7 linked regions of the Homo sapiens genome follow. The protein of the gene in region 7 interacts with the protein of the main gene of each other region in a pairwise test. Each region holds a gene or a part of one and is shown on either strand. Other genes may lie near its edges.

What was found.
Region 1: the proteins of SKP1 (region 7) and FBXL22 interact in binary tests that used the Homo sapiens proteins (3 or more experiments, as listed by UniProt).
Region 2: the proteins of SKP1 (region 7) and FBXO21 interact in binary tests that used the Homo sapiens proteins (3 or more experiments, as listed by UniProt).
Region 3: the proteins of SKP1 (region 7) and FBXW9 interact in binary tests that used the Homo sapiens proteins (3 or more experiments, as listed by UniProt).
Region 4: the proteins of SKP1 (region 7) and KCTD9 interact in binary tests that used the Homo sapiens proteins (3 or more experiments, as listed by UniProt).
Region 5: the proteins of SKP1 (region 7) and FBXO33 interact in binary tests that used the Homo sapiens proteins (3 or more experiments, as listed by UniProt).
Region 6: the proteins of SKP1 (region 7) and MTUS1 interact in binary tests that used the Homo sapiens proteins (3 or more experiments, as listed by UniProt).

Annotation. Positions count from the first base shown.
Region 1 is NC_000015.10:63,596,044-63,600,186, reverse strand, and holds the start of FBXL22 (F-box and leucine-rich protein 22), read right to left. Parts: upstream 2,801-4,143; 5' UTR 2,795-2,800; coding exon 2,442-2,794; intron 1,034-2,441; coding exon of another isoform or gene 994-1,033; exon of another isoform or gene 1-993. UniProt on the Homo sapiens protein: Substrate-recognition component of the SCF (SKP1-CUL1-F-box protein)-type E3 ubiquitin ligase complex. Promotes ubiquitination of sarcomeric proteins alpha-actinin-2 (ACTN2) and filamin-C (FLNC).
Region 2 is NC_000012.12:117,176,971-117,180,470, reverse strand, and holds part of FBXO21 (F-box only protein 21), read left to right. Parts: intron 1-2,829; coding exon 2,830-2,951; intron 2,952-3,500. UniProt on the Homo sapiens protein: Substrate-recognition component of the SCF (SKP1-CUL1-F-box protein)-type E3 ubiquitin ligase complex.
Region 3 is NC_000019.10:12,693,832-12,698,106, forward strand, and holds the start of FBXW9 (F-box/WD repeat-containing protein 9), read right to left. Parts: upstream 2,801-4,275; 5' UTR 2,751-2,800; coding exon 2,342-2,750; intron 1,108-2,341; coding exon 968-1,107; intron 892-967; coding exon 763-891; intron 1-762. UniProt on the Homo sapiens protein: Substrate-recognition component of the SCF (SKP1-CUL1-F-box protein)-type E3 ubiquitin ligase complex.
Region 4 is NC_000008.11:25,444,934-25,448,433, forward strand, and holds part of KCTD9 (BTB/POZ domain-containing protein KCTD9), read right to left. Parts: intron 1,318-3,500; coding exon 1,196-1,317; intron 1-1,195. UniProt on the Homo sapiens protein: Substrate-specific adapter of a BCR (BTB-CUL3-RBX1) E3 ubiquitin-protein ligase complex, which mediates the ubiquitination of target proteins, leading to their degradation by the proteasome.
Region 5 is NC_000014.9:39,401,434-39,404,933, forward strand, and holds part of FBXO33 (F-box only protein 33), read right to left. Parts: intron 1,079-3,500; coding exon 968-1,078; intron 429-967; coding exon 1-428. UniProt on the Homo sapiens protein: Substrate recognition component of a SCF (SKP1-CUL1-F-box protein) E3 ubiquitin-protein ligase complex which mediates the ubiquitination and subsequent proteasomal degradation of target proteins. Probably recognizes and binds to phosphorylated target proteins.
Region 6 is NC_000008.11:17,791,095-17,794,594, forward strand, and holds part of MTUS1 (microtubule-associated tumor suppressor 1), read right to left. Parts: intron 1-3,500. UniProt on the Homo sapiens protein: Cooperates with AGTR2 to inhibit ERK2 activation and cell proliferation. May be required for AGTR2 cell surface expression. Together with PTPN6, induces UBE2V2 expression upon angiotensin-II stimulation.
Region 7 is NC_000005.10:134,163,451-134,166,950, reverse strand, and holds part of SKP1 (S-phase kinase-associated protein 1), read left to right. Parts: intron 1-3,500. UniProt on the Homo sapiens protein: Essential component of the SCF (SKP1-CUL1-F-box protein) ubiquitin ligase complex, which mediates the ubiquitination of proteins involved in cell cycle progression, signal transduction and transcription.

The sequences.
Region 1 (4,143 bases), on a different chromosome or scaffold from region 7:
GCACGCGTTAGCATTGAGTCCGGGTTCAGCTTAGTAGACTAGAGCTGTTCCTGCATCCCCTGGGCCACCAGCCTGGAAAAGGGTAGGGTTCGGAGGCAGCTAGAGGCAAGCCCTGAGCAGGTACAGTCACGGACACCCACCCAGGTCGCTTGGCCAGAAAGCTTGGGGGACCCTCTGCTGCAGCCTCACCAGCCCCTCCCAGCAAAGAAAAGATCTTGAGCCAAGTTAGACTTGGTTTATCGCCGTGTCAGTCACTCACGGAGCCTTCATTTCCTCTGCGTGGGGGGAATAATGTCTACCACTGGGGTTGTGAGGAGCCTGCAACGGGGCCTTCCACAGGCAGTCCTAACCCGCTTTCCCTGGAAACAAACGGGACCAGCCTGCTTCCAGTCCAGAAGGACCGACTAATGGGCCGGGGCCTTGGCTCCCCGCAGCCAGAGGGAGCTAGAGTCTGGGCTGGGGAAGCGTTTCCCTTTCCCTGCCAGCCTCCCCCGCAGCTCCGTGACTGCCCCTGGCTGTGCCAGCTCGGCTCCTTTGTGCCAGGGGAGGGAAGTAAGGAACTTAAATATGTTGGGTGCAGCCAGGTGTCACACCGAGCCCGGGCCTCCTTCAGGTTTGTGTGCCCTCATTAGTCACCCCGTCAACCTCTGCACCCCCAGTTTTGTACATGAAGAAACTGGCTCCGGCAGCTCAGGTGACTGGCTGGTGACTTATTTGCTGTCAGACCCAGGACAGATGTCTGAACCTTGCTGGGCGTCACTTCCTCATTTGTCAAGTGGGAGGAATTGTTACCTTCAAGGTGGTTATAAGGATTAGGTGTTTAAGCCTCAAAGGTGTTGGGTGATCTTTTCTTCTAAGAATCTTTGGAATAATTCTGATACAGGGAAAAAACAAAGAGCGGACTGTCCCCCTGCCCAGCCATCCTCAGCCATTCCTCCCGACCTGAGCTGAGTGCCAGAAGAACCAGATTCAGTAGACGTTCATCAGTACCTACTATGTGCCAGGTGCCACTGTGTCATTTAATCCTCTTACCCTGTTGGATAAGAAAAATTTAGCACATTTTATAGAAGAAGAAATGAGGTTGCAAGAGTTTGAAGTATTTGAGCTGGGGTCACATGGTTGGACGAGCTGAGCGGCTCAGCAGAGTGCTGACAGCAAAGCCCTTTGCTCTTTATGTGACAGCAGGGCCCCTTGCTTGATCAGTACAGTGGCCTGGGAGGTCCACTTCACACCTTGCAGGTTTGGGGCATTAAGCTCGGTTCTCTTACAGTAAGAATGGAACAACTTCAGGACATGTTGTGCCATTCGCCTCCCCCCAACCCCCACCCATGTCACTCTAGTCTAATTCCTGGGCCTTGTTAAGCCCATCAAAATAGCCTTGTCCAGTCGGGGCCCAACCCCAAGTCCATCTTCTGTTTTCTTCCTACCAGCTCAAAAGAAAGGTGGGGTCACTACGCTGTTTCCTTCCACTCCTGTCGTGCTGCCAGCAAATAGCAGCTATGAACTTGGGTGGCAGTAAACTGGCTGAGTCTAGTTTTCCATGAACAGCCAGGGCCAGTTTGTTATATGATCAAGGGGGTGTTTTTCCTCAAAGGCAGCACGGGACTGGCAGAAGCTCAGTGAGAGGCTGGTTGAATAGCTCTGTGTTCTTGCCTGGGCCGCTCTGCCCATGAGGCTGGGACCATGGAGGGAGCCTGGCCTGGTGGTTCAGTGTCTATGTCTGTGTCTGGGGTGGGGGTTAGCAGATAAACACAAGATGTATTTGGGACATACTTACACTAAAATATTATTCACTGTTTATCTGAAATTCATATTTAACTGGGCAGCCTATATATTTGCTAAAATCTGGCAACCCTAGACTGGGCAAATCATACCACCTCGTGGAGCATCAGTTTGCTAATTTGAAAAATTAGGCTAAGCCACCCTCCTTAGGAATACTGTGTAAATCAGTAATTCATCTACTCCTGGAGTCTGGTTTGGCTCAGCTGACCTGAGCACCCTGGCTTCTCCACCTCTGGCTCCCCACCCTCTCTTTCCTCCGTAGTTTCCCAGGCCTTGAGGGCTGCTTGCTAGGCCTAATGGAGGGGTGAGCTGATTGCTGCATCTGGAAGCCTTTTCCCAGAGCCTGACCTTGAAAATCCAGGCCCAGCTGGACCCACCCAGCACTTAATGACTACCAGTACGGAGGCCCCACTTCTTGGTGTTTGCATGAAGCAGCCCAGGACCTGTGAGGCTAAGAGGAGGATTAGCAATTGTTTCCCTCATGATTTTATTGTCTCCTGGGGACCCTGCTTTGGGCGGTCTGGATGTCTGCCTTGGGCCTAGTTTGAGGCGCCCCGAAGGTGGAGCCATCTTGGTCTCGTAATTTGCTCTTCCCTGCCCCCCAAGAGGGAAGCCAGAGCTAGCGGGGCCAGCACTGCTCAGGAGGCAAGGTGGCCTACCTGTCGCACACCCGGAGGAGGAAATCATTGACCAGGCTCTCGTGCCGGCTGCAGATGCTTCTCTGGAAGGCACTCTTGAGCCAGTCCTCAATGCTGCACACCTGCACGCGGCTGGAGTGCCAGCAGATGGAGAGGCTGCGGAGTGCCGGGCCCAGGAGGAAGTTGTCCTTCTGGAGTTCAGTGAGGGAACGGAAGTGCAGCAGGGACCAGAGTGCGGGGTCCTCAAACACGTCGTGGAGCTGGGAGCAGGTCCTGGCAAGGCTCTTCCTGCTGTCCTTGTCTAGGAAGGAGAAGAGGTGCAGCAGGCACTCCCGGTTGAGCTGGGTTATGTGCATGGTGAGCAGTGGCCACATGTGAGTGCAGCTGCAGCCGGGGGACGGCTGACCTGCCTCCTCTCCTCCTCCCCGACTCTGGGCCGGTGGACATATATGGTTGAGGAATGGTGTTTATTTTTGGCTAACAACTGGTGCTGAAGCTCTGCGGAGGGGTGAGGGAAGAAAAGCCAGGACCCAGACACATGTGCGGCAGTCTGTGGTTCGGCTTATGTTCAGAGGGATTGGAGGTCCTGGCAGAAAAGGAGCCTATTGAAGTTACTTTCCTTAAAAGGGATTTTTTTTTTCCCTTTAGCTGACAATGGTGTTTAGCAGTGAGCACTTTTGGCTTTTCCCAAGGCGTTTTCATTGGCAGTGGTGGCGGCCAGGCCAGCTCTGTCTGGCTTTGCAGTCTGTACTTAGGGGGAAGGAGTGTAATTGTAAATGTTAACTGTTTTGATTTTCTAGTACATCAGTGTGAATCTTTTGCTCCACCCTTACTAGGAAGAAACCTGTTGCGTGTGGAGAGCTAAGGGTGACGGTTGTGAGTTGTGAGCAGAGTCCATGGCTGCTGCCTCATTCCTGTTATTTTTGTGCCATAGAGTAATTGTCTCCAGGCTAGGCTGGTTGGCCTTCAAGCCCTGCTGCCTGCCACTAGGCAGGGGGATTTTCCTGGGCCTCCCCAACAGCTAGATTTTTACCCTGAGTTGTTTCATAAAAGAATTTTACTGAAGTAGCTGCTTTCCAAAGTTGTGTGTCTGTGTTTTATGTTTTATTGGTGCTTTGTTGTTGTTGTTGTTGTTTTTGTAGTTTTGGTCAAGCAGTACTTTCTGTGTTTTAAATTTAAATTTACTTGGCTTTACATTTTCTCACTGATAAGGCCTTGTACTATGTATAACCTGTACTTCCCAAAATGTCAGGATGGATGAGGTAGCTCTTAATGTGAAACTGCTTGAAACAATTTTAAGTTCAGTATTTTAGTCCATCTTTGCCTTTAAGTTGACCACACACCATCCATTCTATGAGTGCCCTCCGTTCCCTCTTGGAGAAGCCAGTGGGCCACCCCTGCCCTCTCTGACTCAACTCTAGGCAAGGTGCCTGGAGGTACTATCCGTGAAGCTCCCCCTTCCTGAGTACCCGAGGCTTCACGATATGGCAGACCCGTTTCCTCATGCTGCTTCACTCCCAAACCCAGGACCCAACCTTAACTCTCCTGCTTTGAATCCCAGTCGTTGTTTTTTGGTTTGCTTGGGGGATGCTGATATGGTGCAGCTGTATAGGCCACGTTCTGCCTAGGCAATAGTGAGAAGAGAATGGTTTTTCCTCTGCCAGCCCAGGGACCACCACCTCAGTGGTTACTTCTGTTTGTTCTCCCATTTGGAATAAGAGGG
Region 2 (3,500 bases), on a different chromosome or scaffold from region 7:
AAGATAGAAGAAGGTCAGAGACATATATTTTTGAATTAGAAGTGCCAGTGTGAACTCAAAAGGTATTTTATATTTAAATACATGTAGGTATATGTAAGTGCATGTGCATATGTACATGTACACACACGTGCACATCAACACTAGGCTTCCTACGTCTGTTTGCTGAAAAGATCTAGAAATAATAACCAACCTAGTGGAATTGATCTTCCCTGGTTTCCAGATTGTCATCTTGATACAACATTTTCCACAAAAGAAGCCAGGGTTTTTGGAGAAAGACTGATTGTATGTCCAATGCAAGGATTTTAAAAGATGAGCCTGGTGGTGCATCCTGGAAACCTAACCAGATAGTAAGAAAACTGACACTACTTTATGTCGGAAGTATTGAGGAACCAATATGAAGAGGCTTCCAGTGGCCAAAGATGTGACAGTTAGAGCATCAGTGTGGATAATAACAGGAATGGATTGAAATGCATCGAATATGCTTGTCTCTCTGAGTCCATAATACTAAAAAATTAATTGGTCACCTTTGAAGGATAAATAGAAGCCCATATCATTGTTTTGAAAAATTGTAAATAGAAGATATGAGCATTTATCCTGCCTTTTCCATGTACTGTATCATGGGGGATCAAATAATAGACGGGGAGGTTTTTCCTTATAGAAGTATCCCAGCTAATGAATTAAGAAGGGTTGATTGAATTTTAATATCACCACTTCGTAACCTCAAATGAATGAACAGATCAAGACATTGAGTAGCAGTGCTGCTGACATCACAAAAGAAACACCCAGGCATTATTGCCTCCTGATGGGAGAATGCACTACCTTCTATGAAATTATCTTGCTAAATTAATGGAATCTGTATCTCATGTAGCCTCTACATCCAATTTACAGGAGATCAGAAGACAGAAGAACATGTTAAACTACATCATGTGGGTACAGTCAGCAAATTTCAGACGATGGGAAACTGCAGGTCAAACAACCCAGGTTCTTCAACAAATAAAATGCAAGGGAAAAAAAAAAGATGGAGGAGGATCCTGTAGATTAAGAGATTTAGAAGGCATCAAAACAGACTCGCCTGTTTAGGGATGTATATTTCATGGTAATACTAAAGAGAAAAGCAAGAAAGTGATGACCATAGAGGTGTGGTTTGTGATTATTGTTGCGGGGGGCCCCGGAGGGCTTCTTGGCCGTTTGCAAAGTTTTCTTTCTTGGCAAGAGTGTTAGATCCAGGAATGTGCCTTGTAATGATTCATTAAGCTACTTGTTTGTTTCACACAATTTTCTAGATTGATATATTTTACAACTCAAAGGTTAAAAAGTAGATGAAACATAGATCATTCTGCAGATTTTCATTGACCTCTCTCAAGATTGGCAAGTTGTTTGTTTCTTCATGATGTCAGCCAGATAAGTTTCATCACTGTCTCTCTCCTGCTTCTTATAATCCCCATATGTATTTGGGATATGTGGTGAAGAATTTTATCCACTCAACAAGTGTTATGGAACATCTACTATGTGCCAGATGCTATTCTAGGCACTAGGGATACAGCAGTGAACAACACAAAAAAAATCCCTGCCTTCATGGGGCTTATACTGTAGTGGGCGAGATGGGCACTAAGAAATTGGTTACATTAGAAAATGAAACATGCTATAGAGAAATATAATCGGGGAAGAAGGCAGGGGAGTGGTGAGGGGGTACCATTTAAAATAATGTAGGGGGCCTTACTCAAGGGGACATTTGAGTTGAAACCTAGGAGAAGGTGAGAACAGACTGCAGTCTCTGGAGAGAATGTTCCAGGCAGAAGAACAGGGCACTAAGGTGAGCACCCGCCAGACAGTAAAGGAACAGCTGGAATGCTTGGGTGGCTGGACTGAGGGGGAGTGGCAGGAATTGGGGTCAGAGAGGTAATGGGGCGAGAGTTCAAGAGACCTTTTAAGTCCTCCTTAGGACTTGGGCTTTTTCTTGGAGCGAGGTGGGAAACCGCTGGAGACTTGGAGGCGAGGATTGGGTGGCGTGACCGTACGTGTTACTGCAGTGCTCTGGCTGCCGTATTGAGGATGGACTGTGGAGGGGCCAGGTCTGAAGCGGGAAGCTGAGGTAGGAGGATGTTGCTGCAACACAGGAATGCTGATGGTGGTGTGTGGGAGTAATTGGGAAGTGTGCACATTTTGGATGTAATTTGAAGATAGTACCGATAGCATTGGCTGACAGGTCTTAAGTATGGCTTATGAGAGAAAGCAAGGCATCCAGGATGACTCGCAGGTTTTATGCCTCACTAGAATGATGGAGATGCCTTGATCAGAGATGAGGGTGACTCTGGGAGGGGAAGAAAGATGAAAGTGCTCAGCTATCTGAGTGGGATGTGGAGTAGATGGATAGTAGTTGATACAAAGGTCTAGAGTTCAAGAGAGAACTCTGGTCTGGAAAATAGGAGTTTTCATAATATGTGAAACCGTGAGGAACTCACCATGGCAGTGAGTGCCCAGGCCCAAGTGGCCCAAGCAGGGGGACCAGCAAAAGGTTCTAGATGCCTCCCCATCTTCTGAACCTCCCCCAGCTCAATTCCTTTTTCAGGCTGCTCTTCCATTTCCTTTTATGAAAGATACAGGCAAGTAAGTCTGAAGCCAGGCAGATAACTGTTCCTCAGATTTCAGTACAACTAATTTAGTATTATATTACAATTCAAAGACTGCTATTTCCATTATAATTATTATAAGAGAATGAACCAATTATATTTTTCTTGTTAAGCAAACTACATGGTATGTTAGTGTAATGTGAAAAATAGATAACTGAAAGTTTTCAAATCTTAATTCTTACTGACTTTTTGTTTCCAGAAAAGCTTTGACCTGGAAATACTACGCAAAAAAAATTCTTTACTACCTGCGGCAACAGAAGATCTTAAATAATCTTAAGGCCTTTCTTCAGCAGCCAGATGACTATGAGTCGTATCTTGAAGGTGGGTCTTTTCCCATATATGTGGACAGTAGTATTTCTGTAGGTAACTGATTAGTTTTTTAAGACCAGCAGAGGGAATTGTGTTCCTTGTGGTAAAGAAGTGAAAAAGCAAATCATGTTGCGTGGGCTTCTGCAGGTTGGATTATAGGGCCTGATCAATGAGGTAGTTCAAACTATTAAATTTAGAGCTAAGATTTTATCAAAGTCCACTAAAGAAATAGTGTTTTTTAAAGATGCATCATTGGCTTAAAATGTGAGAGTGATACTTTAGCTAATGAAGTAAATTCCTGTTTTTCCGAGCTTTAATGATCATTTCCAAATCAGAAGTAAATGTATCCAATTTTGTCTCCCTGTGACCTTGAGTAAATCCCTTAACCTCTCAGGTTGGAGTTTATTGAGGACAGAATGTTCTTGGGCATCAGTGAGTCTGCTTGTCCGTAATGAAAGGTGAGAAGGAAGAAGTTGAGTGGACAGGCAAGATGAAGGGAGTGGAGAATCTTTTTGTTCTTATTAAGTTGAACAGGAACAAAGTGAGACTTCCATTTTTTTT
Region 3 (4,275 bases), on a different chromosome or scaffold from region 7:
AGTGGGCCGAGATCATGCCATTGCATTCCAGCCTGGGTGACAGAGGGAGACTCTGTCTCAATAAAAATATAAATAAATAAAGGCCAGGTGACTCATGCCTGTAATCCCAGCACTTTGGGAGGCTGAGGCGGGCAGACCACGAGGTCTGGAGATCGAGACCATCCTGACCAACATGGTGAAACCCTGTCTCTACCAAAAATAAAAAAATTAGCTGGGCATGGTGGTCCTAGCTACTCAGGAGGCTGAGGCAGGAGAATTGCTTAAACCTGGGAGGCAGAGGTTGCAGTGAGCCGAGATTGCATCACTACACTCCAGCCTAGCAACAGAGTGAGACTCCATCTCAAAAAAAAAAAAAAAAAATTAGACAGGTGTGGTGGCATGCACCTGTAGTCCCAGCTACTCAGGAGGCTGAGGCAGGAGAACCGCTTGAACCCGGGAAGCAGAGGTTGCAGTGAGCTGAGATCATGCCACACTCCAGCCTGGGTGACAGAACGAGACTCCGTCTCAAAAAAAAAAAAAAAAAAAGCCTGAGCTTAATGCATGTCCACATTAATGCATAATGCATCTCCTTCATCCTCATCCTAATCACCCACTGGACAGAAGTAGAAACTGAGGCACAGAGAAGTCACACATCTCACTCAAAGTCACACCAAGGTTAGAAAAGTCAGATTCAAATCTATGCGGTCCTGTACCAAAACCTGGGGCCTTAACCAAGATGCCCTACTCAGGCCTCATACCTCCTATCCCCACCTGACTCCTCACCTCATGGGTACTATTTCGCTTAGTGCCTAAGGTCTTGATCAGAACCTGGTTGGACTCCGTCCCCAGCTGCCGCAGGTCCCACAAGTTGACGTTGCGATCTCGGGAGCCCGACAGACAGAGTGACCCACCCTGGAAAGGGAGCAAGGTGATGTTGTCAGGGCCACCCTGGCCCACCCTGCCTGGCCCCCCACAGACCCCGTCTCACCTGGAGCAGCAGCACTGAGTCAACGGAAGCCACGTGGCCTTCGGCCAGGCAGAAGTATTCGACCCAGCGCCCATCCTCTGCCCAGCGGGACAGGTGCTGCTCCAGCGCAATGCAGGCTGCCGGCCAGTCAAAGTTCTTCTCTGTGGGTTACCACGAGTAGGGTGCCCAGTGGGCAGGGACCCTAGCACCCATGCCAGCTGGCCAAGCCCAACCCTGGCTTCCAGGGAGCCCACACTACACCAGACTTGGACAGAACCCCATGGAGATCCCTACTCCCACCCCAAGCCGACCCAGGCTGTGGTCTTGGGACCACCTGCCTGCCCATTTCCCAGGCAGGTCTAGGACTACTCACTCCAATTTCCAGAAATTGGGAACTGGGGTCTCAGAACTACCTCTCCAGGCGCCATCCCCCAACCCAAACTCAGGGCAGAGCAGTCTCAGGATGTTGAGGTCTGACCTCAGGCTCAGCATAGAAGCTGGGACCTCATGACTAACCCTTCCTGCCTCAGCCATCTGAACCAGACCAAGGGGGCTGTTTCTCAAACAGTATCTGGAAACCAGGGAGCCTTGTCAAGATGCAGAATGCAAGCCCCAGATGCAGATTCTGTGATATGGACGGGGTCCAAGCATCTATGTTTATTAAGCTGTTTGGGAGAGTCTGACCTGGGGGTTGGATGGCAACACCTTGAGAATCACTGATCCCGGAGTGATCCTGATTCCTCTCTAAGCAGAATCAAAGCTTCCAGGTTAAGGGTATCAAACACCCAAGCTGTAATACATCTTGGCTTAAGGGCCTGAGGATCCAGCTGTATCAGGATCAACAATATCGATTCAAAGGTCCCAAGCTGTCTTCCCTCAGGAACCAATCAACTCAGGGCCAAGAGCCACTGTCTCACCCCTAACTGGGTCAAGGCTCTAGGGCTCAGGAGTTTTGACATCAACAGGTGCTGTCTCAGCTTCTAAGCTGGACTCAGAACCTGAGGATCCTTGGGCTCACTTTGAGCCCCAGCATAAACTCCAGAGCCTAAGACTTCAAGTCCCTGTGTCAATCCCCAATCAGGGGTCAGTGGCTTAGTACCACAAGACCCCAAGACTGAGGATATTTGGATCCTGAGTCGTCCAGGAACCACAGCCCCATGTTAGGGTTTCACAGCCTCAGGACCCCAAGTGCCTGACTGCCTCGTGGTCCACCCAGAGGTCCTCAGGGGCTTCGGCACCACCAGTAACTACCTTAGCCTCCAGCCTGAGCCAGGACAGCCACGAAGCCTGCACCAGAGGCTGCATCCGGAACACCCCATGTACCTCTTCCCCGCCCCAAGCCTGACCTGGGCGGGCGCCCCCGGCCCCCGGTCCCCGGCCCCCGGCCCCGCGCACCTTCCACCACTGGGTAGGGCGCGCGTACGCGGCGTAGCGCGCGTAGCCTCCAGGTGACATGGTCAGACACGAGGTCGCGGAGCGCGTGGCACACCCGCGACAGGACGTGGAGCACGAGGCGGGCGTCCAGGTAGGAGCAGATCTCGAGCAGCAGCTCCGGGGGAAGGCTCAGAAGGCCCGGCTCACTTACGGCCGAAACCCTGGACGCGGCCCGAGGCTCCGAAGCGCTCGGGGACGCGGCGGGTGTGGATAGCTGCGAGGGGCGCGAGAACGCCAGCCCGGATTTTGGCGGACTGAGAACGCGGGCCACGTAGGCCTTGGCCTGCGCGTCTGGGTCTGTCTCTGACTCTGGGTCCGAGTCATCGTCCCAGGTGCGGGAATCATCGCACCGCCCTAGGGGAAGCTCCATTGCGACCGGGTGGGCGCTGCCGGCCTCGCGTCTTGTCTCCTAGGCAGCACGAGGGCACTTCCGGCGCTGTCTGATGACGTTTATGCGCCCACCGGAAGCGACGAAGTCAGACACTGGCTTAATACAGAACATCGCCCCGCTTACAGGGTCTCTTGCAACTGCGTCGGCCTTAGGCTGGAAAATGCAGGTTCCTGTTTCTGCGCTTTTTAAACTAGCCGATACCGAGAGCCAGCCAACTCTAGCTAAAAACGAAACTCAAGCCAGGCGGGGTGGCGCGCGCCTGTAGTTCCAGATACTCAGGAAGGTGAAGGGGTAGGATCCCTTGAGTCCAGGAGTTCGAGACTGCAGTGAGCCATGGTTGTGCCACTGTACTCCAACCTGCGCAACATAGTGAGACCCTGTCTCTTTAAATTAGACATAAAATAAACACTGCTTTAACGAAGGCATCTGTTATATGTGACACTGAGCTTAGAAACCCAAAGGCCCCTTTCCGAGTTCAAGGAGTAGAGATTGGAACTCTTGCCTCTTTTCCCAGAGCCAGAAATATGCAGTTACACTGCAGAGGCATCAGTTAAGTGACTTTTTTTTTTTTTTTTTTTTTTTTTGAGAAAGGAACTGGGGCCTCAGAACTACCTCTCCAGACCCCATTCCCCAACCCAACCTTGGAGGACAGCAGTTCAGTCCTCCAAGCGGAGTGCTTGGCTCATTGCAACCTCCGCTTTCTGGACTCAAGTGATCCTCCACCTCGGCCCCCCAGGTAGCTGGGACTACAGGCGCGCACCACCACACCCGGCTAATTTTTGTATTCTTTTGTAAAGACAGGGTTTCACTACGTTGTCCAGGCTGGTCTGGAACTCCTGAGCTCAAGCCATCCGCCCCCAACTTGGTCTCCCAAAGTACCAGGATTACAGGCGTGAACCATCGCGCCTGGTGGAAAGCTACCTTTTTCTTTTTTCTGAGACGGAGTCTCACTCTGTCACCCAGGCTGGTGTGCAGTGGCGCGATCTCGGCTGGCTGCAACCTCCGCCTCCCGGGTTCAAGCGATTCTCCTGCCTCAGCCTCTAGAGTAGCTGGGAATACAGGCACGCGCCACCACTCCTGGCTAATTTTTGTATTTTTCAGTAGAGACGGGGTCGCACTATGTTGGCCAGGCTGGTCTCAAACTCCTGACCTCGTGATCCGCCCGCCTCAGCCTCCCGAAGTGATGGGATGACAGGCGTGAGCCACTGCGCCCGGCCTAACATCACACTTACTAAAACAGCATGTTGGCCGGGTGCGGTGGCTCAGGCCTGTAATCCCACCACTTCGAGAGGCAAGGTGGGTTAATCACTTGAGGTCAGGAGTTCAAGACCAGCCTGGCCAACAAGGTGAAACCCCTTCCTACTAAAAATACAAAGAATTGGCCGGGTGTGGTGGCAGGCACCTGTAATCTCAGCTGCTCAGAGGCTGAGGCAGGAGAATCACTTGAGCCTGGGAGGCGGAGGTTGCAGTGAGCCGAGATGGCATCATTGCACTCCAGCTTGGG
Region 4 (3,500 bases), on a different chromosome or scaffold from region 7:
GCTCAGAAGGCTTCAATTATAACCTTCCATTGTAGACGTTTTTATTTCCTATAGGACATCACAGGACACGTTAAATTTTTCTAAGAAGCAGAGTTCGTGTTTGTTAAGAAGAAAGTTAGGTTGATGAGGATCATCATCCAACAATGTGACTCAGTTTTCCTTAGAAACTGAAAGAAGCTGGGAGATACATATTGAAAAACTAAGAAGTTATCCTAATTTATTTGGATTTAAAATGTAGTGTATAGTATTTCCTACTTGTTCACCATGCCAGTTTACTTTTTCAGATTAGTATAAAAATCTGTTTTCATTAACAAAACCCAACTAGCTGTATGACCTGAGTGAGTCCTCAGCTTCACAGGTAATTCGTTTCCTCATCTGTAAAATGAAGGGTCTAGAACTGATTAACTGCAAAGCAGTATATTATACTGAAAGGTCATTTTGATCTAGATTTATACAGAGACTTTGTATATCATTATAGGTTAAAGCATCATTATCTTCACATCACTGATAAAAAAAACTCATGTTTTGCCAATTAAATGGTATAACTCAGGCAAAGCAATGATAACATAAGTGGCATAGTCAATACTTAATTTGTGTTCCCTTTACCATCTTCTTTGTTAAGCATCTTCCTGCTCCAAAATTCTCTGACCTCATGAAGATGAAGTAAGGTGAACTACACACTTGTTTTAAAGAGATAAATCTGCCTGAGATATTTAAGGTACAAACATAAGCCTATAATTATGGTGGATCACTGGTGATATCACTACTTAGAATTCTATCATATTTATAAAGTTTTTACAAAATCTGGCCTTTGTAATGATTATAAAATGCAAAGCATTCTTAGGAAATGATTAACAAGCAGGCGCATATAAAAGTGAAGAGATGAATTAGATTTTTAATGTTAAAAACTGCACGTCTTACTAGATCCTTCTCTAGTACCACAAAGAAGAAATTCCTCATAGCTATATATGAACTATGCAGAAAGACTATCAGTATACTGAAATGTACTAAGGGTTTTCTAGCTGATCAATTCACCTTAAGCCCAAATGATTTAAATTCCAAAGAGCAAATTCTAGGTAAACACTTGCCAAAATCCTGTACTCTTAACAGTGATTAAATTACTGCTTAAGGGAAACAGCATAGCACCAAGAAGTTGAGGCACACTGTTGACAGCTTATAAAAAGGTGAAGGTTACCTGATCAAAGCAATATCATCAATCAGTCCACCTTTCCCATTATACACACTGGTGGCTTTTATGCCGAGTTTACTGCTGGCCACAGAAAGCAAATCAGATAAAGTTCCATATACAGCAACCACCTGTAAACACACCAGAATAATATGAACAATTTCTTTAATACATGTTATCCCCCATAAGTTATAAACTACCACACTAGAACAGTGCTAAAAAGATTATCATATAAAAGGAGACTTCAAAAGGTTCTTAACAGTGCCCCCTTTTCTTCCATGACTCATTTATTCACTTGGTGCCTAATATTGCCGACTCCTCAACTAGAACATAAGAAATCATCTCTGACCAAAACAATCTACAATCCTAAGGTGTGTTAAATAGCGCTCCAGTTGTGAAGTAAGATAGACCTACACTTCGATCTAGAGTCTGACATTTTCTAGCTGTCAACTTGAGTCAACCTACTGATGCTTCTGTTGCTTTAACTAGAAATGAAGAAAATAGTAGCACCTACTTCAGAAGGTATTATGAAATGAGTTCATGCATAAGAGCTTAGCAAAGTGCCTGAGACCTAGTAAGTCCCTATTATGTTGTCCTTTTATTATTTATTTATTTGAATGGTTCATCCTTAGAACAGGAGTGTGCTGGTACTGTTTATTATATCATTAACGACATCAACTACCACAGAAAAGATAACTTCTCACCTCATTTATTTAATTCTTCACTAACTAAGCCAGATTTTAGCATCTAACATTTAAGAACAGAGCAAACAGCTGGGTGACAATGAATTGATGTGTCCTGCTGTGAATCAAGCAGTCTGATATATGTGCAAGATACATGCAACTGTCTAAGCAGGGTGCTGAGAATTTCTACATGTAAGTGAATTTTGTGCCCTGGTCCTAACTGTAACTATGGGTTCCCAGCGACTGAGTTGTGCAGTTGCACCATTATCAGTTATGACCTCTGAAAGTTAGGAATAAAAACTAGGTAAGGGTCGGGCGCAGTGGTTCATGCCTGTAATCCCAGCACTTTGTGAGGCTGAGACGGGCAGAGCACTTAAGGCCTGGAGTTTGAGACCAGCCAGACCAACATGGAGAAACCCCATCCCTACTAAAATACAAAAATCAGCCAGGTGTGGTGGTGTATGCCTGTAGCTACTCCAGAGGCTGAAGCATGAGAATTGCTTGAACCCAGGAGGCAGAGGTTGCAGTGAGCCAAGGTTGCACCACTGCACTCCAGCCTTTATGACCAAGCAAGGCTCTGTCTCCCCGCTAAAAAAAGAAAAATAAGTAGGTGAAGAGCTAAACACGAAGCACAGTCAGCTAGCTCATGGACGTCCCAAGATTTATTATGTCAAGATGCCATATGAAGTGAGCACTAAGGCTGGTCCTCTGTCCACCAGTGACTGGAATAGAGTGGACAGTTTCTAGTTAAATAAATACAGTAAATGGAGGACATGGAAAAAGCTGCTCGATAACATACGAGTGTGCAGTTTTTCAAAAGCAGAGTACTCAGATTCTAACTTTTTTCTCTTGGATCAGAAGGATGAAAGCCAGAAGAGTGCTGGGGCATTTTGGAAAGTGTTGAAGGCAAGAAAAATTTAAGCGGAACCAAGTGCATTATAAAAAATAATGTACAACCCAAGTGTCCATAAGCAGGTAATTGCATAAATAAAATATGGTATATATATACAATGGAATATTATTCAGCAATAAGAAACAATGAGGCCAGGTACAATGGCTCATGCCTGTAATCCCAGCACTTTGAGAGGCTGTGGCAGGTGGATCGCTTGAGCCCAGGAGTTCGAGACCTGCCTGGCCAACATGGTGAAACATGGTCTCTACAAAAAAATACAAAAAGTAGCCAAGCATGGAGGCACATGCCTGTAGTCTTAGCTGCTTGGGAGGCCGAGATGGGAGGATCACTTGAGCCTGCCAATTCAAGGCTGCAGTGAGCCAAGATCACGCCACTGCACTCCAGCCTGGACATGATGGGACGGAAAAGAAAAAAGGAAAGGAAAAAGAAAAGAGAAAAGGAAAGGAAAGGAAAGAATAAAGAAAAAGGAAAGGAAAGCAAAGCGAGAAGAGAAGAGACATGAATTCTGACACATGCTGCAACATGGATGAACCTTTTTGACAGTATGCTAAATGAAATAAGCCAGTCACAAAAGGATAAATATTCTATGATACCACTCACATGAAAGTACCCAACACAGGCAAATTCATAGAGAAAGAAAGCAGAATAAAGGTTACCAAGGCATAGATGGGAATGGAGACTTATTTCTTAATGGTTACAATTTCTGTTTGGGATGATG
Region 5 (3,500 bases), on a different chromosome or scaffold from region 7:
TGATATCAAAAGCCATTATATAGACCCGAAAGCTGGTGCTCTTTCGTGACAGGGCTTTCCAATGCTCATCATTTGGCATGTTGTCCAGAGACTTGTGCATTACAGAAACATTGTGAACCAGAAGAGACAGTCGTTGCAAAGGCACATGGTTGCTATCAGTTAAGACTCTTGCCATCTCAGCTGTAAAGTCACAAAAATCCAAGGCAAGTGAGTGCAGATTCACAAATCGCTCCAGTTCAACTGCAGTAATAAGAGTGCTGTTACCAGGAATATTATTGTCCAGTAAACTGAGGTGCTCCATGGTGTTGGCAACAGCATTAGAGAGAGATGACAGTGATGTTGGGGTTACTATTTCCAGCATAAACCCACAGGACAGCCATTTCAGTTGCCTACTATTACTCAGGATTTCTTCAAACAGTTGCTGAATTCTATAAGGAAAACACATGCCACAGTGATCCCATTAACATTTAGTTCTAATCTTTTAACACTGACTTTTGAAAATAGGCAATGAAAAGCATGCAATTTTGAGATCTATTTTTCCTCATTAGGTAATTTCGATTCAACCCACAGTAAATACCATTAAAATTCACATTAAAATATAATGAATAAGGTATATTAAACATAAAGATCTATTAAACACGTAGAAATATGTTCCTCATCCAAGAAAAGCACCACTTATACCCGTTTAGTAGAAAAGTAGGATAACATACAATTTATGTTATAGCAAAGGCAAGTAGAGGAATAATTTTAAATAGCAATAATTATCCACTAAGTTACTTGATTTTTCTTAAAGATTTATGAGATGGAATGGCAGATGCTGATCACTGTATTTCACCATTAAAACATTTCCAGGACCTATGTTCCTTTTAGGAAAAAAATCATTACTCTTCTGTTTGTATCTCATAATTTCTTAGGAAAAACATATTATTAATAGTACAACCTCCTTTCCATTAACCATATAACTTACTGTTTAATTTTTTTGCCATCAGGGTCCACCTTGCTGAGGTATGTATTTGACAAACTTCCTTGCTGTTGTAGAACACTTATGTCTCCAAAAAGACTAAACTTCTGAAGGTTCCTACAAGAACAATCATTTAAAATGATTTGCTAAATAATTTATACTTAAAAAATATAAATATAAAAAATAAGAATATGCAAAGGGGATATTCTAGGAAGGTTTCTATTTTATAACTCAATTAGAATCCAGTTAAGTACTTTCAGATTGCTTTATACATATATTCAGATTTTTTTTTTTTTTTTTTTTTTTGAGACGGAGTCTTGCTCTGTCACCCAGGCTGGAGGGCAGTAGCGCGATCCCGGTTCACTGCAGGCTCCGCCTCCCGGGTTCACACCATTCTCCTGCCTCAGCCTCCCGACTAGCTGGGACTACAGGCGCCCGCCACCATGCCCGGCTAATTTTTTTGTATTTTTAGTAGAGATGGGGTTCAGATTTCTTTATACATACAAAGCAACATGATACAGGAGAAGTGGCATAAGCTTTAAAGAACAAGGACCAGGGTATAAAGATTGGTTCAGGAACTAAATTTATAATGACCATGGAAAAGTCTCTTAATGTGCGTGAGACTCAATTCTTCATCAGTAATAACAATACCTACCTTATAGGGTTTAAGGATAAATGACACAATGATATATGACAAACTATGTAAGCTCTAAATTTTATAGAGATGATAATTACAATATAAACATGTCTCAAACCAGTTAATTTAGTCAACATGTTAAATGCTCCAGGGTAAGTCACTGCCCTGAAGATATCTACTCAGTTAAGAAATATTCCTTAACTGAAATCTAAAGAGAACCTTCTCCAGTTTTATGATCAAACCATACAGCTTATGAACAACAGAAGTAGAAAACTATGTAAGGCCAGGTGCGGTGGCTCACACCTGTGGTCCTGGCACTTTGGGAGACCAAGGCGGGGGGAATCGCTTGAGGTCGGGAGTTCGAGACCAGCCTGGCCAACATGGCAAGACCTTGTCTCTAATGAAAATACAAAAATTGGCTGGGCGTGGTGGTACATGCCTGGAATCCCAGCTGAACTGGGAGGCGGAGGTTGCAGTGAGCCAAGATCATGCCACTGCACTCCAGCCTGGGAGACAGACTCTACCTAAGAAAACTAGAAAACTATGTTAAAATCTTTTGGTTTTAGATAATTTTAGCTACAAAACATATAGTTTTCTGATAGTAAAATTGTAAATAAAATAGGAGAAAACTGGATGAAGAGAAAACTCCTAAGTCCAATAATAACGAACTAGATATTTCATTTATAACATAAAACTTAGGGATAATTTCAATTAAAAAATGTATCATCTACAACAGTGATACAAGATTTAAATAAATGAAAAATACCATTTCTTTTTTTTTTTTTTTGGACACAGTGTCTCACTCTGTTGTTCAGGTTGGAGCGCAGTGGTATGATCACGGCTCACTGCAGCCTCAACCTCCTGGGCTTAAGTGATCCTTCCAGCTCAGCCTCCTGAGTAGCTGGGACCACAGGCATGTGCCACCATATGTGGATAATTTTAAATATTTTGTATTTGTTGGACTCTCAAAGTGCTGAGATTACAAGTATGAGCCACCATGTCTGGCCTGAAAAACACCATTTCTTGATGGTATGTCACATTTTCTCAAGTAAATCACCTTAATTTCACGGAAAAGCCCAATGATTCTAAAATTTAGCTTGAGGAATAATCATTAATTCGTTTATTCATTTAACCAACAATTCCCTGAGGGCCTACGAAGTACCAGGAACTGTGCTATATACTAGAGACACAATAGTGATTCAGTGCTGTGAAGGACAAGTACATGGTGCTACATATCATGGGCATATTTGACACTGTAAGGGAGAGCAGGCGTCCCTAAATTGATTTAAATGGATCTTTTTTTTTGTTTGTTTGAGATGGAGTCTCGCTCTGTCGCCCAAGCTGGAGTGCAGTGGCACGATCTCGGTTCACTGCAAGCTCCGCCTCCCGGGTTCATGCCATTCTCCTGCCTCAGCCTCCCGAGTAGCTGGGACTACAGGCGCCCGCCACCATGCCCAGCTAATTTTTTGTATTTTTAGTAGAGATGGGGTTTCACCGTGTTAGCCAGGATGGTGTCGATCTCCTGACCTCGTGATCCACCCGCCTTGGCCTCCCAAAGTGCTGGGATTACAGGCGTGAGCCACCGTGCCCGGCTTTAAATGGATCTTAAGAATAAGTGGAAGTTAACCAGGAGAAGTAAGGTAGGGAGACAGCATTATAGGGAAAAGGAAAAGCATTTGCAGCACTTGAAGAGATCAAAGCGAGCTGAAAAGAATCCAGAGTGACTGGAGTACAGAGAGTAAGTGAACATGAAATGATGACGTAGAGGTAGACAGGGTTCTATGTCAAAGAAAAAATTTTGTAAGCTGCTCAACAATCATTTTAAGAAAAGAATAGGCTGGGCGCGGTGGCTCACACCTGTAATCCCAGCACTTTGGGAGGCTGAGGTGGGTGGATCACGAG
Region 6 (3,500 bases), on a different chromosome or scaffold from region 7:
TGGGTGTGGGAAATGGACCGGTACAAGTCCAGTCCCAGTTCCATAACTTACTCGCCATAAGACAAAACATTTATCCAAATAGTTCTGGTCCCCAGTCTCCTTCAGTATAAAAGAAAGCACTCATGACCTGCTCTGCCCAACCGCAGGGCTGATGTGATCAGTTCTTAATATCATATTTACAATGTGCTTGCCACAAACATAGGGAATTAATATTTCACTATGCTTAAAAGATGAAAATACAAAATTGCTTTTATATTTAAATACTGTATATTAATAGTAACATTTTACAATTGAAACTCTAAAATACAAATATTCTGGACTATGTTACAGGTGAAAAATCAGAACAGGGAACCTTAGTACTGTAATATCCACAAGTCCAAGATTAGTTCAAAGTGATGACTCAATTGTCTTTCGAATGTGCTGACTGATAGCAAAGAGGCAACATAATTTACAGACTTTACCAAAGATAAAAGTATCTACATTGATTTTTTGAAAACACAGTTCAAATGGAGTATCAGCAGCTCACTAGACTTAAACTTTCAAGAAAAACAAGAGGTGACAAAGCTGGAGTCTGAGAATAAACAATCTCCAATGTTTGCTACAAATCAATTCCTCCTAAGGAAGAGGGAAAGTTATCAGCCTCCTGAGCCTAGAATTTAACTCCCAACCGACAGCACCAGCAGATCCAAGCAACACCTCCAAGGCTAAGCAGCAGAAATTAAATGAAACACCTATCTATGAATCAGAAGATTTAATTTAAAACTAGAGACTAAGGAAGGTTATTAGCACCCATTGATCATTTTCTATATACCTGGCACCTGTGTCAGAATAACCCCAGGAGACAAGGTACTACCCCCACCTTCCAGCGTCCTGATGAGCCAACTGGGGAGCAAAGGTAATGAAATTTCACTCAAGGTCACATGGCTAATAGGAAAATCTCAGACATGAACCCAATTTTGCCTGTTAAGTCTGTGCACTCTCTATGACATTACTGCACCAAATGTCCTGGATACCCATTACATTTTTCCAATTCTATAATAAAGTATGTCCCCAGGGTTTCATAATGGATGTCATGGTGGGCAAAATCTAGCTAAATGGTGAAATACCTCTATTTATTATTTGAAATTCAATAAAAACAGGAGGAAGGAGAGAAGAAAAGCAGTCCCTAGCACTGAAGGATGGAGGGCTAATCATTCAAGATCAAAACAACTCACACCATATAAGGAGAAAATAGTTTTCATTTGATTATATATCTACAAGGTTATACATTTTTAAATGTTCAGCCTAATAAGCTGTAACCAGAACTTTCCAACAAAATAGTCTTATCTGCAATATAAAATGGTTTAGGTTTTCTCATAGAAACAGAAATGTAGGATTTTTCTTACCTCCCTTTTCATTAACTGACCCTACTCTTTTAAATTCAAATTAAGAGTAAGTAAATCCCTTTGCAGAGGTGCCATCAAAAACACTATAAAGCAACATCAGAAGGCTGGGCATGGTGGCTTACGCCTGTAATCCCAGCACTTTGGAAGGACAAGGTGGACAGATCGCCTGAGGCCAGGAGATTGCCACCAGCCTGGCCAACATGGGGAAATTCTGTCTCTACCAAAAATACAAAAATTATCCAGGCGCGGTGGCGCATACCTGTAGTGCCAGGTACTCAGAAGGCTATGGCATGAGAATCACTTAAACCTGGGAGGCGGAGGTTGCAGTGAGCCGAGATCACACCACTGTCCTCCAGCCTGTGACACAGCAAGACTCTGTCTCAAAAAAAATCTGAAAGCAAAACAATTTTTTAACCCTTAAACAGAAAATACTTCTTCACAGCATTAAATCAAGTTCAATAACCAGCAAGTCTAGAGAACTATTGAAAAGTTTTACATAAATGCAAAACTACTCTGAAACACAAATCTTATTAGATGTAATGAGAAAAAAGAATCCTAGACTGCAAAGTTATCTGAATTCCTAAGTTGTACATACATTTTTCTCTAAACAGAAAACAGCCCAAGTCCCTAGTCAAAAGAAATTGTCAACTTGCGATTGTCTGCACGAATAGGGAATGTCATAAATCATGAGTGGAATCAATTACGTACATGTATTTGCACATGGGTATGCCAGATGTTCTCAAACTGACTCTTCATAATAAAACAGTAACTCAGAAGCATCAGGAAACTTGGCACCTTCCAGCTCTGATGCTCTGCTCCCAAAGCCATGGCCGTTCAGTCGGACACAAGACTGAGGGTAAACTACCTTCCCTCTGCTTGCTGAGTATGAAACAATGGATGAGGGGGTGAGGGCAAGAGGAGAGGGCAAGGAGCAAGGCACAGAAAAGCAATAAGGAAATTAATACCTGTGGTTTAAAAGACCTTCCAGTAGCTGTGACTATCTGACAAAAGAATTTCAAATTCCCATGCCATCAGAGCTCTAGATGATTTATTCCAGACCACATCTGGGAGAAATAATTATAAAAGTAAAAATGTACCCAGCATCCGAACATTTAGACCCTATCCTTAAGGAGCTTACAAGATGTAGCAAAAATATACTGGAAAAGGTAACTAAAGATTCTCATTGAGAGAAATTAAGAGACGCCAAAGAGTACAGTGCTAAGTATTTTCCTTCTTAATCCTTTTGGTGAGAAGGAAAAGGGTAAGCATGATTAATGACAAGGATGCTTTATATAACCAAGAATGTCAATACAACCTACGTGACCAAACTTTGGTCAAGTCAGCAGGTGGAATTTTTAATGCAAAGCCCAACGTTAACAACCTGGGAGAATATTTCGAACAACACAAACACTTACTAACATCTCCAAAACTGCACTTTTCACAATGATTGGGGTTTCTCTGACTCCTCCAAGAAAAGAGGTCAAATTCTTTTTTTTCTCTTCTACCTCAGTGTTTGGCCCATAGAAAGTGCTCAAAAATGGCTGAGGCTGAGGAAAACCAAACACAGGCCGGGCACAGTGGCTCACGTCTGTAGTCCCAGCACTTTGGGAGGCCAAGGCCGGTGGATCACCTGAGGTCAGGAGTTCGAGACCAGCCTGATCAACATGGTGAAACCCTGTCTCTACTAAAAATAAAAAATGAAGACGGGCGTGGTGGTGCATGCCTGTAATCCCAGCTACTCAGAAAGCTGAGGCAGGAGAATCGCTTGAACCCAGGAGGCGGACACTGCAGTGAGCCAAGATCACGCCACTGCACTCCAGCCTGGGCAACAAGAGCAAAACTCTGTCTCAAAAAAAAAGATAAAAGAAAAAAAAATCAAACATAATATTCTAACAGCAAGGATTTTTACTCATGCTTTTTATTTATCATTTTACATGAAATATAAGCCTAACTATACACTACGTATAAATGACTTGGTTCTGTATGTGGGGCCTAGATTGGGGATCTAATACAACACGTGAATTTTTCTTGGTAGCTAGGTCTTGGCATGGCTCAGCCCTTTTAAATCCATTTCTCATTCTCCAATATCCTTCTACCCTATCCTGACCCACCAGC
Region 7 (3,500 bases):
ATTTATTGGGCATCTGTACTGTGTCTACCTATGCAAACACTTCCCTAGGAAGGATGATCTACATGTAGAATATCTGGATCGCAGGTTGGCTTATATACCTAAATTTTGATAGATACTGTTAAATAGTCTTCTGTAAAGATACCACTTCTAGAGCATGGTGGAATTGAATCGTGACTGTCTTTCTTAGATTTATAATTTTGAAACGGCTAAAGTCAAAGGAATATGTAACACTTTGTTCCCATTTCTGTCCTTATCTATTCCAGTCCCCTTTCAGGTAGCAATTTATCCTTTCAGTATTTTGTAATACAGGTATTAACAAGTAAGTATATTTTTTTCCCACATTCTTTTTTTTTTTTTTTTTTTTTTTTTTGAGACCAGAGTCTTGCTCTGTCGCCAGGTTGGAGGGTAGTGGTATGATCTCGGCTCACTGCAACCTCTGCCTCCTGGGTTCAGGTGATTCTCCTGCCTCAGCCTCCTGAGTAGCTGGGACTACAGGCACACGCCACCATGCCCAGCTAATTTTTGTATTTTTAGTAGAGACAGGGTTTCACCATGTTGGCCAGGATGGTTTTGATCTCTTGACCTCATGATCTGCCCACCTCAGCCTCGCAAAGTGCTGGGATCACAGGTGTGAGCCACCGCGCCCAGCATTCTCCCCCATTCTTAAGGTAGCAAACTATACATTTCTATGTTTTTTTTTTTCCATATAACAAAATGAAAGGTGATATGTCTATGTTAGTTAATATATAGCATCTTTTTTTTTTTTGAGATGGAGCCTCGCCCTGTTGCCCAGGCTGGAGTGCAGTGGTGTGATCTCAGCTCACTGCAGCCTCTGCCTTCCGGGTTCAAGTAATTTTCCCTGCCTCAGCCTCCCGAATAGCTAGGATTACAGATGCCCACCACCACACTGGCTAATTTTTATATTAGACAGGTTTTCACCATGTTGGCCAGGCTGGTCTCCAACTCCTGACCTCAGACGATCTCCCTGCCTTGGCCTCCCAAAGTGCTGGGATTACAGGTGGAGCCACCATGCCTGGCTAACCTGAATTTTTTTGTGTTTGTTTGTTTTTTTGATCTCACTCTGTTGCCCAGGCTGGAGAGCAGTGGCACAATCTCGGCTCACTGCAGCCTCCACTTTCCAGGTTCAAGCAATTCTCCTGCCTCAGCCTCCCAAGTAGCTGGGATTACAGGCACTCGCCACCACGCCTGGCTAATTTTTGTATTTTTTAGTAGAGATGGGGTTTCACCATGTTGGTCAGGCTGGTCTTGAATTCCTGACCTTGTGATCTGCCCACCTTGGCCTCCCAAAGTGCTGGGATTACAGGCATGAGCCACCGAGCCTGGCATTTTTTTTTTTTTTTTTTTGAGACAGACACTCTGTCGCCCAGGCTGGAGTGCAGTGGCACGATCTCAGCTCACTGCAACCTCTGCCTCTTGGGTTCAAGTGATTCTCCCGCCTCATCCTCTCGAGTAGCTGGGATTACAGACACCCGCTACCATGCCCAGCTAATTTTTTTATTTTTGTAGAGATGAGGGTTTCACCATGTTGGCCAGGCTGGTCTTGAACTCCTCACCTCAGGCGATCTGCCTGCTTTGGCCTCCCAAAGTGTGAATGTTTTTACATGTGTTACTGGCCATTTACATTTTCTGCATTGTCTGTTTTCATTTCTCTGTTTTCCTAATGGTCTTAGAAAAATAGTGATAAAATATACATAACATTGATCATTTTCACTTTTTGAACGTGCACCATTCAGTGACATTAATTACATTCACAGTGTTGTGCAGCTATCACCACTAAGCATTTTCAGAACTTTATCATCCCACACTGAAACTCTGTACCCATTAAACTGTAACTTCCAATTTCGGTACACCCTCCCCCCTCAAAAAAAAAATTGGTACACCCTCCCCCCTCAAAAAAAAAAATTACGCTAGGTAAACACTATTCTACTTTCTGTATCTGAATTTAGCTATCCTGGATACATAATATATGGAATCATACAATATTAGTCCTTTTGTATCTGGCTTATTTCACTTAGCATAATGTTTTCAAGGTTCATCCATGTTGTTGTCTAATGAGCTTAAAAAATTGTGGTAAAATACACATAACAAAATTTACCACCTTAACCATTTTTAAGTGACAATTCAGTGGTATTATCTAATAGGCTTTTTATAAGAACTCTTTAAAAGTTTCTACCAGTTTGCTTGTCTTACGTTAATTCATGTTACGATTTAGAGGCTTTATTTTATCTAGTTAGATCTCATTCTTTATGACTTCTGAATATGTCTTGCAATTAACGTATTCTATTTTATACTAATGAAAAATGTTTCTAAAAGGATCTTTGCTTGTAGTCGAATGCCTGGTACATTCAAATGCCATCCAAAAGCTGGGGGTATAGCAGTGAACCAAAGAGACAAAATCTCTGCCCTTATGGAGTTTATGGTCTGAAGGGGTGGGGAATATGCAACATTAGAAATACATCAAATGGAAAAACTATGGAGAATAAAGAAGGGAATGGGGAATTTAAAGGGGTGAGTAGGTGAACAGTTAGCTGTTTTTAAAATAAAGATGGTCAGGAGATGTCTTACTGAGAAGATAATCTTTTTTTTTTTTTTTTTTTTTTTTTTTTTCTTGAGATGGAGTTTTGCTCTTGTTGCCCAGGCTGGAGTACAGTGGCACAACTTTGGCTCACTGCAGCCTCTGCCTCCGGGCTTTAAGCAGTTCTCCTGCTTCAGCCTCAGTAGCTGGGATTACAGGCGCGCGCCACCACGCCCGGCTAATTTTTTGTATTTTGAGTAGAGATGGGGTTTCACCATGTTGGCCAGGCTGGTCTCGAACTCCGGACCTCAGGTGATCCGCCTGCCTCAGTCTCTCAAAGTGCTGGGATTACAGGCTTGAGTCACCATCCCTGGCCGAAGATAATCTTTTAAACAAAGACGTGAATATTTGGGGGAAAAGAATTCTGGGATTTGGGAGCAAGTACAGTGACCTTAAGACAAGAGCATGCCCTGCCTTTTTAGGAAAGGCAAGGAGTTTAGTGGAAGCTAGAGCAAGAAGTGAGTAGATAAGGTCAGAGTTAAAGGGTTGGGTGATGTAGGGCCACTTCTGAGAATGAGAAGTGCTTGGTTTTTGGGGTTTTTTTGTTTGTTTGGTTTGTTTGTTTGAGATAGGGCCTCACTGTGTTGCCTGGGCTGGAGTGCAGTGGTGCAGTCATGGGTCACTGCACCTTCTACCTCCCGGGTTCAGGTGATCTTCTCACCTCAGCCTCCCGAGTAGCTGGGAGTACAAGCACATGCCACCACACTTGGCAAATTTTTGTATTTTTTGTAGAGATGGAGTTTCACCATGTTGCCGAGGCTAGTCCGGAACTCCTGGGCTCAAGCGATCTGTCTCCTTTGGCCTCCCAGAGTGCTGGGATTATAGGTGTGGGCCACCACACCCAGCCGAGAAGTTTTTTTTTTTTTTAAGCCTGTTTGTATTGAATATATATCATATTTTGAAG